Linked DNA regions of Homo sapiens: region 2 is linked to region 1. A link means that fine-mapping ties the variant in region 1 to the expression of a gene that starts in the linked region. Tissue or cell type: whole blood. Region 1 holds a variant in brackets; the other region holds the start of a gene. All regions are shown on one strand. Distances are between the middles of the regions.

What was found. PIP is the estimated chance that this variant, and not a neighbour inherited with it, causes the effect.
Region 2: it holds the start of PLD4, and the variant in region 1 is fine-mapped to the expression of PLD4 in whole blood (INTERVAL, PIP above 0.99).

Annotation. Positions count from the first base shown.
Region 1 is chr14:105,009,454-105,017,551 of GRCh38, reverse strand. CDCA4 (cell division cycle associated 4) reads left to right here. Exons shown (of 2, transcript NM_017955.4): 2 at 5,617-7,979. The coding sequence starts at 5,623. The coding sequence ends at 6,348. Among named protein-coding and RNA genes, the nearest start is that of CDCA4, 7.6 kb to the left of the region's middle. The variant C/T (reference allele first, on the strand shown) is at 4,691.
Region 2 is chr14:104,919,904-104,928,001 of GRCh38, reverse strand. PLD4 (phospholipase D family member 4) reads right to left here and starts at 3,123. Exons shown (of 11, transcript NM_138790.5): 1 at 3,012-3,123; 2 at 772-861; 3 at 136-329. The coding sequence starts at 861. RefSeq lists enhancers at 2,289-2,798, 2,781-2,950, 5,345-5,394.

The DNA.
Region 1 (8,098 bases):
GCTGTTTAAGTCCTAAAAGAATGCTTGTGGCTGGGTGTGATGGCTCACTCCTGTAATCCTAGCACTTTGGGAGGCCGAGGTGGGCAAATCACTTGATGTCAGGAGTTCGAGACCAGCCTGGCCAACATGGCGAAACCCCGGCTCTATTAAAAATACAAAAAACTAGCTGGGCGTGGTGGTGCACGCCTATAATCCCAGCTACTCGGGAAGTTGAGGGAAGATGAGGCAGGAGAATCGCTTGAACCTAGGAGGTGGAGGTTGCAGTGAGCCGAGATTGCACCACTGCACTCCAGCCTGGGCGACAGTGAGACTCCATCTAAAAAAAAAAAGAATGCTTACAACTGAGAGTGATGAAACTAGGCCAAGGACCGCCCCCCACCTCCCCAGGAGCCTCTCTGGAGGCTCACACCTGCTGGTCCTGTCCTTGAATAGACAGAAAAAAGGTTCCCCCTGTTCTCTGAATTTCTTTTCGGTGTGATAGATCTCATTGCCTGTGCATTTAACACTCCTAAATTTTATAAAACGATTATTTCTTTGGCATTTATCCAAGAGAAATGAAAAACCAATGTTCATGCAAAAACATGTTCTAGAATGTCCATAGCAGCTTTATGTGTAATAACTCCAAACTGGAAACAAGGAAAAAGTTCCCTTCAGCTGGGGTGTGGTGACACTCTGCTCCGTCTGTGCCTCCAGATCCTACTCTGTTGGGAACTGTTGACACACAAGAGTTTGCAAGGATCTCAAGAGAATTATGCTGAAGGAGAAAAGCCAACCTCAGAAGGGTGCTTGCTGTGGGATCCCATTTATGCCACATTGTTGGGCTGACCCAGAGCTGAAGGGTGGCATGGCCAGAAAAGGACCTACACAGGGAGGCCAGGGTGTCTGGTCCTGGCAGGAGAGCAGCCGTGGAACAGGGTAGGAACACAGACGTGGAGCTCAGTGGAGGAGGGAAGGAACGCTTAGCTGTGGGGCTTAGAGACTTGGCAAAACAAGAGGAAGCTTTACCAGCAAGTGTGCAGAAATAGTGCGGGAGAAAGTTGGTGGAGCGTTCCACCTTCTTAGGATGCAGTTTAATAATGTTTATCAAGCCTCTTAAAAATGTACCTGCACATCACCCTAGTAAGTAAAGAGCCGAGGCTAAGGAAGCCAAATGCTAGAAATACCAAAACACCTAAAGTTAGAAACTGGTATCATTTGTGATTGGGAAAATTGTCAGTAGTGTGAAACTTCCCTCCCTTGTGCAGAGAGGAAAGTGCTGGGAGAAACGACTGGAAAGGAGGAACCCAGGTGGTGACTGTGTTTTTCTGAGTGGATGGGATCCTGGGAGAAAATTCGTTTTATGGTTTTTGATGCTCTTCCAGATTGTCTATGGTGAGCTGTGGAAATAAGCAACCAGGTGAGAACAGGCAGAGGCTGTTTATCCAGAGCTTCCCCTAGCAAGGGTGCGGCCCTCCTCTCTCGTGATTGGCAGAAACTCATAGGCAGGTGAGGGAACAGGAGAGCTTTACAGTGGAATCCAGGGAAGCTCAGGGATGGCTGATGGAGGCTGCTGACTTGGGGGACTGGGGTGGCCAGTTAGAAGTGGGGCTCCTGGCCTGGCACGGTGGCTGACGCCTGTAGTCCCAGCACTTTGGGAGGCCAAGGTGAGTGGATCACCCGAGGTCAGGAGTTTTGAGACCAGCCTGACCAACATGGTAAGTCTCTACTGAAAATATAAAAATTAGCCAGGCCTGGTGGTACACCCTTGTAATCCCAGCTACTCGGGAGGCTGAGGCAGGAGAATCCCTTGAACCTGGGAGGCGGAGGTTGCGGTGAGCTGAGATTGCGCCACTGCACTCCAGCCTGGGCGACACAACAACAACAACAAAGAAGTGGGGCTCCTGTGAGATGGCCTAGAACATGTTTGGCTTTCTCTGGTTGGTCCTAAATTGGAAGCAGGGACAAAAACTGGAGAGGTTGTCGGTTACTAATCATGTCCTGGCCATTTTGGGCTGCTTGCTATGGAAATGATTGTTTAGCTTCCTGGATTGTTCCTAGAGAAAGCAGCCAGGCTTCCTGCAGGTCTGACTAGGGCAACCTGGCTTCCTGGCCCGTTACTGAAGGTAAAGGGCTGGTTTCCGACTGATGGCGGCAGATAATGGCTGAGAGTTCTGTTTCTGTATGTGGTTCCGCCATTGTTTGTTGGTATATTCCCTCGCTCAGAGCAGATGTTATTAGGGTGATTTCTGACGGTCACGTATTGCTAGTGCTGCCCTTAGGACCGCTGACAGCACCAGGCCAAGCACTGAATTCATCCTCTTAAGATCCCCAGTGGGAGGCTTCTAGTATCCATATCTGGCTTTCAGAAAAGGGCGGGAGGGTCTGTCGTTGGGTTTGGACTCAGGACCTGGCATTTCTAAGGACTCAGAGGAAAGGAAAGTGGGACCCAGAGGGTCCTAGGAGCTTGGGACAGCTTCTTGAACTGGTTCCCAGTGTGGTTGTGGGTCTTCTTGGCCTGTCCCATTGGTATTCTTGTTCCTTCTGTGAGTTGCCCTGATTGCCCTGCTCAGTCGTGCTGACCTCCTGTAGGCCCCACATTATGGGGGTTGTGCTGCTGGGTTTCCAGAGTCAGGGGAGGCAGCCAGGGGTTCTTCTGTCTATAAACTTGGGCTTAATGCATGCTGTTCAAGAGGATTTGGTTTGGGTCCTAAATTAATCCATTGCTATGCAGGCTTGGGATTGAGATAGGTTGAAAGAGAAACTAAAAACCTAAAAGGTATATTGACTTCCCACAGAGGAACCCGTGGGACTTAATCTTTTCCCCAACGCAGGGTGTCCTTTGTAGTTTGACATAGCCTTATGTTAATTCTCGATATACTTAGCAATTTTAAGCCAGTGATTTAAACAATGGATTGGGATGGAAAAGCTCTGAAAAGTTAAATTTGTGGCTGACACAAAGAACTCGAATATTTACCAAAAGTAATAGAAATGTGTAAATGTGTTTTGGTGGTAAACTGTCCTTCATTTAGAATTAGTTGAGAAGCTGGTGTATGCAGGTGTGAGAGGCGGTGCCCAGCCTGAGGGCTGTGCCTGTGGTGACACTGGCATGCTGCTCTGGGGAAATGGGTGCTGTAGGGGAAATAAGCTAGGGTTAGGGAAGTTTTCCTTTAATTTTAATTTTGAAATAATTGTAGAGCCAGGGGAGGTTGCAGAGCAGTGTTCAGGAGGTCCTATGTGCCCTTCCTCTGCTCCCCAGGGCCGGCATCCTTGTAGGATGCACAGCCAGGCCCCAGGTCCGTGTGATGACACGGCTGCCGCAGGCGCATGTGTGCGTGTCCGGCGCTGTGCAGTCAGGGTAGGGCCACCCCCACAGCCCAGGAGCAGAAGGGCCCTCACCCCCAAGATCTCCCTGCGCAGGTTCCTTTCTAGCCCTGCCACCCCTCAGCTCTGGGTCAGCATGACAATGTGGCATAAATGGGATCCCATAGCAAGCACCCTTCTGAGGTTGGCTTTTCTCCCTCAGCCTAATGCCCCTGTGGAAGGATCCGTCCTGTGTATCAACAGTTCATTTCTTTCTATTGCAGAGTAGGATTTGGTGGCATGAATGGAGCAGAGTGTGTGTCACCGTGCCCAGGTGAAGGGTACATTTTCCTTGTTTCAGATTTGGAGCTACTACAAATAAAGCTGCTGTGCACATTCTGGAACATGTTTTTTGCATGAACATTGGCTTTTTCTCTGGGATAAATGCCCAAGAGGTCACTTAGTTTTTTAAAATTTACATGTGTTAAAGGCACGGGGATGAGATCTGTGACACTGAAGGGAAATTCAGAGAACAGGGGGACCCTTTCTTCTGTTAATTCAAGGGTAGGACCAGCAGGTGGGAGCCTCCAGAGGGGCTCCTGGGAAGGGGTATGTTTGGCAGCCAGTTCTCCCGCACTGCAAAACTTCCCATCCTTGGTCTCCAGACCCCGAGCAGAGACAGCATGTGCCTCCCATACGCCAGCTTTCCAAGAGCACCTGGGTATACCCTGGTCACAGGGAGCCATCAGATTGACTAAGAGAAAAAGAAGTTCCAAAGTTTGCATATTCAAAAGATTGTAACCCTATTTATGCATAACTTGAATTATTTGAAATAATATTTCACTACATTACAAGCATGAGAAGAGAGAAACTTAATCATGCGTGAGATGCTTGTCCTGTCAGACTCTGCCGGCCAGTATGGCCCTGAGCCAGCTGTCATCCTCCCAGCTCCCCGCAGGCGGCACTGGCTCAGAATGGCATCTGTCAAAAGCCAGAGCCCACCCTCCTGTCTGCTCTGCCTTTAGTGCCCCAGAGATGTCCCAATTTAGAATCAGTTAAAAAAAAAAAAAAACAGTTTGCACAGACTTGTACTTCTGAGAGTAGACATGGCCAATGTCCATCTAGTGCATCTGTGCTGTGCGTCTTAGTGGAACCTGCCCAGCAAGGCTGAGCCTTAGGTGCCATCCCGGAGTTGCCCAGGTCTGGGGTAAGATCCAGGAATCTGCATCTTCAACCAACAGCGCCAGTGCTGAGGCATACGCCGAGAAACACTGCCTTGGCCAGCTCTGGGCTGCCACAACACACTGGTGAGGAACCCACCCCCCCTGCCCCGGACACACACATACCCTGCCATGTTTTGGTTCCTTTGAAGAGAAAGGAGTTGAGATGAGAGGGGAGGTGGCCCCTGAGG[C/T]CATGGTTGTACGGGCTGGTCAGAGCTCTCGAGTGGAGGGCATTGACCTGAGAGATGTCAAGTAGAAAGCAGCCAGGCAGAGCCTGTGCACCTTGGGAGAAATGAACTGGTGGGGCGGGTGGGGGGAGCCAAGGAATGGGTGTGATCCCTAAGGCAGGCAGCATGGGCGGGTGTGGGAGCAAGGGACTGTCCAGGGCCACATAGGCTCGGCCAGGAGACCCTGTGTCCCTTGGAGAATTGTGCACGAAACACAGACCACTCGCTGCATGGGATGAGCATACAGCCCTGCAGTCCTTCCCCTGCGCGTTCCTGGTGGCACAGCTTTCCAGCCCGGCTGTCTGCGACATATAGAGGCTTTTAGTGAAAGCATTGAGGGGGAAGGCACTAACTCTTCTGAACGCAGAAGTGACTTTGTCCGAGGCAGGATCCTGAGGGAAGTCAGAATGGTACGTGTGTGTGCCCGGCCCTGTCCGGCCCCCGCCCTGCGCCCTCTGCAGGCTGGCACGGTTCACATTAATCTCATGTTACCCCAGGGTCTCTTCTTTTGTACACACCACAGTTAGATTTTTGAAACAGATTTTCAGCCAAGCTCTCGAACACTTACATTTCTCTTATATATTTCTCCTATTTTTAGTTCATTTATCTTTTTTGCTATAAAACACTGTCGTGGTACAGTTGAGAGGTTTGTCGTTTCTAACAACGTGACTGTGCCTGGCTTAGGCAGGATGGCAGCTGATCTGGGGGTGGGGGTCTCCCACTGGGCTCCACGTCTCAGCTCTGTTAGGGAGTTACAGCTCTGTCAAGTCCCTGCCAGTTACGGAGTCGCTGCTCCTTGCGTACAGTGAGGGCAGTCAGACGAAATCCAAGGGGCGCTGTCCGCAGAGAGTCTGCCGTGTGCTAAGTGGTGTCTTCCTTGGTTTCTGCAGGACACAATGTTTGCACGAGGACTGAAGAGGAAATGTGTTGGCCACGAGGAAGACGTGGAGGGAGCCCTGGCCGGCTTGAAGACAGTGTCCTCATACAGCCTGCAGCGGCAGTCGCTCCTGGACATGTCTCTGGTGAAGTTGCAGCTTTGCCACATGCTTGTGGAGCCCAACCTGTGCCGCTCAGTCCTCATTGCCAACACGGTCCGGCAGATCCAAGAGGAGATGACGCAGGATGGGACGTGGCGCACAGTGGCACCCCAGGCTGCAGAGCGGGCGCCGCTCGACCGCTTGGTCTCCACGGAGATCCTGTGCCGTGCAGCGTGGGGGCAAGAGGGGGCACATCCTGCTCCTGGCTTGGGGGACGGCCACACACAGGGTCCAGTTTCTGACCTTTGCCCAGTCACCTCAGCACAGGCACCAAGGCACCTGCAGAGCAGCGCCTGGGAGATGGATGGCCCTCGAGAAAACAGAGGAAGCTTTCACAAGTCACTTGATCAGATATTTGAAACGCTGGAGACTAAAAACCCCAGCTGCATGGAAGAGCTGTTCTCAGACGTGGACAGCCCCTACTACGACCTGGACACAGTACTGACAGGCATGATGGGGGGTGCCAGGCCGGGCCCCTGCGAAGGGCTCGAGGGCTTGGCTCCGGCCACCCCAGGCCCTAGCTCCAGCTGCAAGTCCGACCTGGGCGAGCTGGACCACGTGGTGGAGATCCTGGTGGAGACCTGAGCAGGAGCCCTGAGTGCTCACAGCCGCCTCTGACGCATTGACACGTGAGCACTGGCTCCCACGGAGGGTGCGCCTGCCGCCAGCGGCCCAGCCTTGCTGCCCTGTCTGCTGATTCTGAGAAATCCCAGAACAGCCCATTACCAGTGGGGCTGCAGCCCTAGGCCCGTCCCACTCACCTCCCCCCTGTGGAGCGCCAGGCAGAGGCTGTTCTGGAAGGCTTCTTGTCTTCTGACGTCCCCACAGCCCTGGGCCCCTCGTGTCTCTTTGTGTCCCCCACTGTAGAGGACGGTGAGCCGCAGCTGCATCAACCTCCTTTTACCTTTAGATAGGTGAATTTTTACAATTCAGTTTTACATGTTTTGGGCAGTATTTTGTCTTAAGATATATTTTTTAAACTTTTTATACCTTATCTCTTTAGATTTTTTCAGCTATTTTCTTAAAAGTATATTTTTTCTATAAACATCCTTTGCTGCTACATTAGAACTTTTATAGCCTAAACAATTGCAGTTGGTGTGTTTCATTTTTTTAAGGTTTAAATAAGGGTTTTTTGTTTTGTTTTGTTTTTTGCAGTGAGCATCACTACAGTCTCAGTCAACAGTGTGAATGTATCATGTTTTACTTTAAATGTGTGTGTGATACTTCTTCATTATGTCCTGCGCTGCAGTGAGACCTGGGTGAAAATCAGGAGCCGCACACAGCCACATCTTCCTAGACCTAAGAGTAAATTATGGAGGATTTTATTTATGTCTATTTATATGTAAATGTCATTGAAGACAAAGGTCAAATATTTGTCTGTTTGTAGATCACAGGCACCAGTTGGTCTTCAGGGACCTCATAGCCCCTCGGTGGTGCCTTCTCAAGGCAGTGTTCCTGGAGGCTCCCATCAGGGTCAGCCCATGCACCTGCCCTGGGTGAGGAAGTAGCATTGCTGCTGGATGAGAAACGCCTGCGCTGCTCTGTTAGACTGGTGCTGAAACAAAAGGTTAAGGCTAGGTTGAAGTCTAGAATGAAAGAAATCTGAATCCATGTCATTCATAACCCCTTGATCTGTAGTGTCATGGGTGCTGCCGCAGGCAGGGAGTGAGCTGGGGGTGCCTGCAGCCTTCCACTCCTGCCCCGCCTCACCCCACATGCTCCCTGTTTCTCATGCTTTCTCTAACTTCCTCACCCCTTAACCAAAAAGGTGTGTTTTCTTTTGTGCATATAGCCATTCTTAAATATCAGTGATGTAAACCTCACTTTATTAAAAAATTATCCAGCAAACAAAATGGGAATGTGGTGTTAGTTACGACCACGGCCTGACCCTCCAGCAACCTTTCTGCAGGATCAGTTCTGCTGTATTATCTGGTGGTGCTTTCTAAGGTGGGGAAAGGAATTGCACTTGGCTGCATTAAATGGACGCTGGGTTACTTTTATTTCCCCCCCCCACAGGGTTGCAGAGCAAATTCTTTTTACATTGTTCAGCGCCCGGCTGGAGTTGGGGGTGTCCACGACCTCTGACAGCCCCCGATGTCGAAAGTTAATCCTCATGGACCCTAGTTTAAAGGGTATGTGTTTTATAGGAATAAATCTAAAGCACTATTTTGTTTCTGTATAGCATTTTTATCTTTTAGAAACATCATTTGTTCAGCATTAGTAGTAGTTGTAGTGCCTGTTTTGGTAGCCTTCAAAATTATAAACTGCTCAGAGAATGTGACTTTTGAGCGCTTTAGGGGTGCTTGGTCGGAAAACAGACTGGGTCTGTGGAAGG
Region 2 (8,098 bases), 90 kb after region 1:
TCCCTGGTGACCTGCACCTTCCTGGAGGAGCTGGTAGAGGGCCCCCCTTATCTCACGGGCAGATCCAAGGGCAGAAACACAGGCAGCAGCCCCAAACTGAGACCTGCCCCCGCAGGCCTCCATGGGCTCACTTACTGGCAGGAGTCCCTCTGCTGCCTGGCCTCTGCTTCCAGGGGCTCCCAAGCTGGGCTGGAGCCATGCTCCCAGGACCTGGGCACGTCCTTGGGCTGCACCTGGCCCCAGGTGGGAGGACGGGGCACTTGCCACAGGAGGCAGATAAGAGCCACGGAGCCCAGCCACAGCACAGCCAGCGCTCCCAGGACCTGCAACTGGATGGGGCAGCACCCGCAGGGTCACCAGACAGGGCGGGGCTTGACTTCTGGCTGGGCCACGATGGCCCCTCCAGTGCTGAGACAGAGACCGTCTTGACTTCCCGGACCTGGGCTGCCACTGGGGTGGGACTAGGGTGGACAAGGGAGAGGGGAGGGTGATACAGAGAAGGCCCCCAGCCCAGGGTGGTGGCAGGGGTCAGGGGGCCTGCAGCCCACTCTGCAATGCTGTGGCTCGTGGTAACTGGCTGTCCCCAGCACCTCCAGCAGGGGCATAAAGGGAAGGTCTGGAGCAGCCCAGGGAGGCTTCCCTTGCCCACCAGTCAGGGCACCTCTGCTTGGAGGCCCCCTCAAGGCTGCTTGTGACCTCTCCACTCTGGCTCGGAGCTCTTGAAAGGCCATTGATCCCAGCCACCTCCCCCCTGGGGCCCCCCAGTCCTACCGTGCCAGCCTCTCTGTCCCACGGGCGGCGGGGCGGCATGGAGCATGGCCATGTGGGGGCCACTGCTGCTTTCCAAAGAGGCTTCAGCATCTGCACAGGGCAGCCTGGCATCACCAGCAGCTCCAGCTCTGCCCAGAACTGCCCCTCAGTGCCTGGGCAGCTGGGCACTGGGGACACCCCTGCACAGACACCCACATAAGCCCCCAAAAGCCCCCCACTCATGCCCGAGGTCACGCCCTGGATGTTGGGGGTGTGCTTTCCACGAGGACAAGCCGTGTGGGTGTTGGAGCCCGCAGCCGGCCACATGTCACCTGTCCTGTCCCCCTGGCCAAGCCGGAAGGACTGCTGTTAAGGCGGTCCCCAGGGCTGAGCCTGGGCCAAGCACGAGGGGCGGGCGGGCGTCTGTGCCTAGCCACATGCCCCGGCTTTCTGTGTCTCCCCTTTCAGGGTCTCCCACTCAGTGAGTATCTAGGTATTTGCATCTCAGTTCCCTGTTTCAACCACAACTGAAACTGCGTCTGAAAGGGCTGTTTCTGCTTTTGTCGCTTGGTCCTCTTATTGCTGGCCTATAAATAACTGCTTCCCTCCTGGGCTGGGCTCCTGTCTTGGCCCCACGGCAGCCCCTCCAGAGAGCCACAGGTCAGAGGGGGCAGCTGAGCAGTACCCTTGCTGGAGAGGCTAGGCGTGGAGAGGGCAGAGATGGCGGCAGAGTGGGACCCCTACTGCTGGCAGAGGGGGTTGTCCTCTGCTGCAGGGACTCGCCTTATCTCCTCAGAGTGGTCACCCCACAAGGAGCTGGGAGCCAGGCCATCTGGGCCCTGTGGGATGTGGGCTCCCATCCCCACTCCTACCCCCAAAGCAAGCAGTCAGGCTGCCCCAGGTGCCACCATGGGGGAAGGGTGCCTCACAAGTACAGAGGCGCCCTCCCCGGGTGCAGGGAGGGGTCTGTGCCCAGCATGGTCACCTGGCTGGCCAGCCTCTGACTGAGACATCCACCAGGGCAGGAGCTGGCTGGCCCCTGGCTGGGATGGGGATGTCTCCGAGGTTTGGGGCCTGGGCCTGGGCAGTGCTGAGTGCCAGTGTCTGCAGCCAGGCTGGGCGCTGGGACCCAGGGCTCGGTGGGTCGGCTGTCCACCCAGGAGCAGCCAGCTCAGCCTCCAGGCCTCTGGGGTTCGTCTGGGCTGTCCTCCCACGGGTCAGGGCTGAGGGCTTTGAGAACCTGGCCTGCCTCAGCATGGGGCGGAAATGCCAGGAACACCACAGGAGTCGGGCCTGGACTGAGTCTGCCCTGGAGACCAAGCGTTATGGGGGATTGGGGGTAGGAGCATAAACCAAGTGTGGGGACAGGGGACTCAGGCCAAGTCACTGCGGCCCAACTCCCCCCACGCTGGGGGGTCCTGCAGAGGTGGGTGGGTGCCGCCCCCACCCCAGAGCTGAACTCTGGGGGATGCTCCCCCCACCCCACAGAGGAGACCTCAGGGTGCCCACCGTGTCCCCACTGTCCCCAGGGATTCAGGGCCCAGCATCGGGCCTTTGCTCTCCCCCACTAACTCTCAGAAGAGGAAACATGGAATCCTGGGCTGTGGCTGGTCAATGAGAGGAAACATGGAATCCTGGGCTGTGGCTGGGCAACGAGGTGCCAGGGCTGTTCTTGGACAGCTGCTCCCCACACTCCCTGCCCTCACCAGAGAGGACCTTTGCTCCCTTAAATGCTCCAGGCAGACGGGCAGCTCAGAGCACAGAGGCGCTGCCTCTTGCAGGCCCCATCTCAGACTTGGAGCCTGTCCAAGTCCCCTCCCAGGACTACAGACCCCAGAGCGCCTCACCACCTCCTCCTGCAATGGAACCTGGGAGGACCGCCAGCCAGGTTGGCTCAAGCTGAGAGACCCCTGCAGAGTAGGGCTGTAGCCCCCTGGTCCCATGGTAGATAGCGTAAGACCCTGCAGACATCAGAGGTCATGGCTGAAGGTGCCAGATTTCCTGCCCTGCAGGGCATTAGGCATGGCTGCCAGTCCCAGGCTGAGGTAGAGGGCCCAGCTGTCACCTGGCTGGAGAGCCAGGGCCCAGCTTATCCCAGCTGCACGGACTGGGGACGGAGCGAGTCATCTACAGGACTAGCTGGAGGCTGTGTGACTCTCTGGACCTGGGGTTGCTGGGAGGCTGAGGCCATAGGGAGGCAGACAGCAGCCCTTTCCCCATGCCTGGCTTTTCTCAGCTGCCCTGGCCTCATTGGCACATACCTCTGGGGGTCCTGCCTTGGTGTCTATCCTGATTCCAGCCGCAGACTGCAGGCCCTCAGCTCACGGGGCAGGCTCGGTGCTGCCTGTGCTCCACACCAACCTCCTCTTCTCTGCAGCTCACCTCCTCCTCTCTGCAGCTGGCTCCTTCCCCTTCCAGCTACTTCCTCTTTGTCCTGAGAGGCCCCCTCTCATCTGAGACAGAAACAGACGGCTGGAGCTGGGTGGGCGGGCTAGAGGGTAGGGCTGAGAACCTTCACCTCCAGGAAAAATCTACACCCCACTCCCTCGAGGTAGAGGCCCTCCAGTTGCGGGCCTACGAATCGGAGTCAAGTTCAGCTGCAGGCCACAGACACCTAAGGAACAGTGGCTTCAGCAAGGTTGTTCATTACTCTCGAACACTAAGCAGGTCCAGGGGCTGGCAGGCTAGAGACGGCCTTGCTAGAGATGATGGCATTGCTCCACTGCCATTGGGAGCCAGGCTCTCAGATCCCAGTCCCTAGGATCCCTGCCTTCATGGCCTCACAGTGGCTGCTGGAACTCAGCCATTGCCTCTGTGTTCTTAGCAGAGAATAAGGGACATCCCAGAGGAGACTTCCTGGAAGTCCCACAGGGCACTTCCACTTATCTGTGATCTGGAACTTGATCTAGAACTTAGTCACATGGCTACACTTAGCTGCAAGGGAGGCTGAGCAATGGAGGTAACTAGGGTCTTTATCTTGGAGAACGAAGCTGGGGCTGCTCACTGGCATATCTGAAAAGGTGGGCCTGGCTAGAAGCTCCTAGCAAGGGGCTCTGCCTCCCACTGCCCCACCCCCCGACTGGGGTCCCTGAGTAAGGTCTGGGACCTTGAGAACACTCCTACTTTCAATGAGGTCTGGGTGTCCACCCTGGCTCCTCCTTGTAAGGCCTATGTAGGGCAGGGGTCCAGGGTGATGGCCTCAGGGTGCCTGCAGGACACCAGTCAGGAGGGTGCAGTTCCCAAGGGTGGGGCCTGTCAGCTGCACCCCTGGGGCCAGTCTGGGTGGGCCAGGAAGTGAATGGGGAAGAGATCCATCCTCTCCCTAGCCCCTCCCAGATCTCTCTTCACCTTCCTGATGCTCTGATTTGGCCTTGGGTTCAGCCCTTACCTCCCGGCCATGGTTGGGGAGCCCCAGCCCTCTGGCTGGGTTGCTGGATGCCTGAATGCAGCTGGGCCCCAGGCATGCCCCCGAGGGTTGGGTCCTCCAGGGACTCTGGGTGAGGGTTACTCTGGGTATGGGGAGGGGCAGCCAGGTGGGTCCTGCTGTGACATTTGCAGGGCTGGGGCATGAGTATGAAGGGAGGCTGCCTTCCCTGCACTCAAGCAAAAGGCAGTTAGACAGAACAGGTTCTCTTCTGTCTTTTTTTTTTTCTTTTTCCTTTGAGAGAAGTCTCGCTCTTGTACCCCAGGTTTGAGTGCAACGGCTTTATCTCGGCTCACTGCAACTTCTGCCTCCCGAGTTCATACGATTCTCCTGCCTCTGTCTCCCAAGTAGCTGGGATTAAGGCACGTGCCACCACGCCCGGCTAATTTTTGTATTTTTTATTAGAGACGGGGTTTCACCATGTTGGCCAGGCTGGTCTCGAACTCCTGAACTCAGATGATCCACCCGCCTCGGCCTCCCAAAGTGCTGGGATTACAGGCGTGAACCACAGCGCCCAGTCTCTTCTGTCTGGACAACAATGGTGTGTGAGGGCCTGGAAGGCCAGGGGCAAGTGGAGGACCCCAGGGCTCCTTGGAGCACTCTCAGAAGTCCTTGCAGGAGGGCCAGCCCCAGCCAGTCCCCTCTCCGATTTCCCCACATTGTGAGGGGCCTCAATGAGCCCACATGCTACACCCAGCCCGTGGGTCTGAGCTCATTGCAGCCCCAGAAAAGCACCACGTCACCTCCCCTGGCTGCCCCTCAGGCCAGCAGGACTGGGTACAGCTCAGGCAGCTCTACCTCGGGAGGATGGATCCAGGCTTGGGGATGTTTAAGCAAGGAATCCTGGGCCTTGGGCTCAGGGTTCGGTGGACTGTCCTCTTGGCCTCTCAGGCTGCTTACCCTGGAAGAAAGATTGAGGCTGGAAGGGGCGTCTAGATTCGGGACCCAGGGCAGGCCTCTCAGTGGCTCCGAGGCTGGCTGTGTGGCCAGGAACGACCTGAGGGCAGCTCCTTGCCGGCTCTGCTCCCTGCGCTGCAGGCCCCACCCTGAGGTCTAGGGCCCTTTGGTCCCATGGGGTGTGGGGAGGGACTTTGGGGATTTCCCATGAAGCAAAACTTTTTTTTTTTTTGAGATGGAGTCTTGCTCTGTCGCCCAGGCTGGAGTGTAGTGGCGCCATCTCGGCTCACTGCAAGCTCCGCCTCCCAGGTTCAGGCCATTCTCCTGCCTCAGCCTCCAGAGTAGCTGGGACTACAGGCGCCCGCCACCATGCCCAGCTAATTTTTTGTATTTTTAGTAGAGACGGGGTTTCACCGTGTTAGCCAGGATGGTCTCAATCTCCTGACCTCGTGATCCACCCGCCTCAGGCTCCCAAAGTGCTGAGATTACAGGCATGAGCCACCGTGCCCAGCTAGTGCATATGTGTTTCTAGTTATTATATCTTCCTTATGGATCACCCTCTTATCATTATAACACATCCTTCTTTGTCTCTAACAATAATTTTTGTCTTAATATCTATATTTTCTGATATTAGTATAGGAACTCCACCTCTCTTTGAGTTGCTGTTTGAATGTTATATCTTTTCCTGTCATTTTACTTTTTTTTTTTTTGGACGGAGTCTCGCTCTGTCGCCCAGGCTGGAGTGCAGTGGTGTGATCTTGGCTCACTGCAAGCTCTGCCTCCCAGGTTCACGCCATTCTCCTGCCTCAGCCTCCCGAGTAGCTGGGACTACAGGTGCCCGCCACCACGCCCAGCTAATTTTTTGTATTTTTAGTAGAGACGGGGTTTCACCGTGTTAGCCAGGATGGTCTCAATCTCCTGACCTCGTGATCTGCCTGCCTCGGCCTCCCAAAGTGCTGGGATTACAGGTGTGAGCCACCGTGCCCAGCCTGAACATTTTTTCTTTAATTTCCTTTGTTATTTCAAAAATTAACTTTGTGGGAAAATATGACTCATTATTTGTCAGCAGAGCTAAGTTTTTTGTTTTTTTTTTTTTTGTTTTTTTTTGTTTTTTACCCCAAATAAGTACAGACTGTCAGAGCAGGCTTGTGGGAGCACTTAAACCCCACCGTAAGCACATCAGACACACCTCACCTCATGGTGGAGCTATGTCCTGATAAGCCCATCATAAATGGAAGCTGAAAATATTCTAAGTTGATAATGAAGAAAAAAAGAGAGACAACCCAAATAACCAAAACCAGAAACAAAAAAGAGACATTACAACTGATATCACAGAAATACAAAAGATCACCAGAGACTACATGAGAAATTATACACTCAGAAACTGGAAACCTGGAGGAAATGGAGACATCCCTGGACACGCGTAGCTGCCGAGATTGAATCAGGAAGAAACAAAAAAACCCGAACAGATCAATAAGGAGTGATGAGATTGGAACAGTAATAAAAATCTCCCAACAACAACGCAAAAGGCCTATAGACCAGATGGCTTTACTACTAAATTCTACCAAACTTACAAAAAAGAACTAATACCATTTCTCCTTAAACTGTTCCAAAAAACTGAAGAGGAGGGAATTCTCTCTGACCCATTCTATGAGGCCAGCATTATCCTGATACTCAAACCAGGCAGGGACACAACAACAAAAAAGAAAACTACAGGTCAATATTCCTGATGAATAGATACACAAAAATCCTCAACAACATACTAGCAAATTGAATCTAATAGCACATTGAAAGATAATACATTATGACTAAGTGGGATTTATCCTGGGGATGCAAGGATGGTTCAACATACGCAAATCAATACATGCAATACGTCAAATCACAGATTAAAGGACAAAAACCGTATGGTCATCTCAATAGATACAGAGAAAGCATGTGATAAAATTCGACATCCCTTCTTCATGATAAAAACTCCCAGCAGGCTGGGCAAGGTGACTCACGCCTGCAATCCCAGAGTTTTGGGAGGCCAAGGTGAGAGAATCACTCCAGACCAGGAGTTTGAGACCAGCCTGCACAATACAGTGAGACCCTGTTGCTAAAAAAATTTTTTTTAATGTGACCAGGTGCAGTAGCTCATAATCCCAGCATTTTGGAAGGCCGAGGTGGGCAGATCACTTGAGTCTAGGAGTTTGAGACTAGCCTGGCCAACTTGATGAAACCCTGTCTCTACTAAAAATACAAAATTAGCCAGGCATGGTGGCGCATGCCTGTAGTCCCAGCTACTTGGGAGACTGATGCAGAAGAATCACTTGAACCCAGGAGGCAGAGGTTGCAGTGAGCCAATATGATGCCACTGCACTCCAGTCTGGGTGACAGAGCAAGACACTGTTTAAAAAATAAATAGGCCGGGCACGGTGGCTCACGCCTGTAATCCCAGCACTTTGGGAGGCCAAAGTGGGCGGATCTCTTGAGGTCAGGAGTTTGAGAACAGCCTGGCCAACATGGCAAAACCCTGTCTCTACTAAAAATACAAAAAATTAGGTGGGCGTGGTGGCAGGCGCCTGTAATCCCAGCTACTCGGGAGGCTGAGGCAGGAGAATCGCTTGAACCCGGGAGGCTGAGGTTGCAGTGAGTCGAGATTGTGCCATTGCACTCCAGCTTGGCAACAAGAGCGAAACTCAGTCTTGAAAAAACAAATCAGGCAAAAGATCTGAATAGACATTTCTCAAGAGACATACAAATGGCCAACAGGCATACGAGAAAAATCTCAGTATCACTAGTCATCAGGGAAATGCAGATCAAAACCACAATGAGATATCATCTCACCCCAGTTAGAATTGGTGTTATCAAGAAGACAAAAAATAAATGCTGACAAGGATGCCAAGAAAAGGGAACACTTATGCTCTGTTGGTGGGAATGTAAATTAGTGAAGCCATTGTGGAGAACTGTATGGAAGTTTCTCAAAAAACTAAAAACAGAACTACCATACGATCCAGCAATCCCACTACTGAGTATTTATCCAAAGGA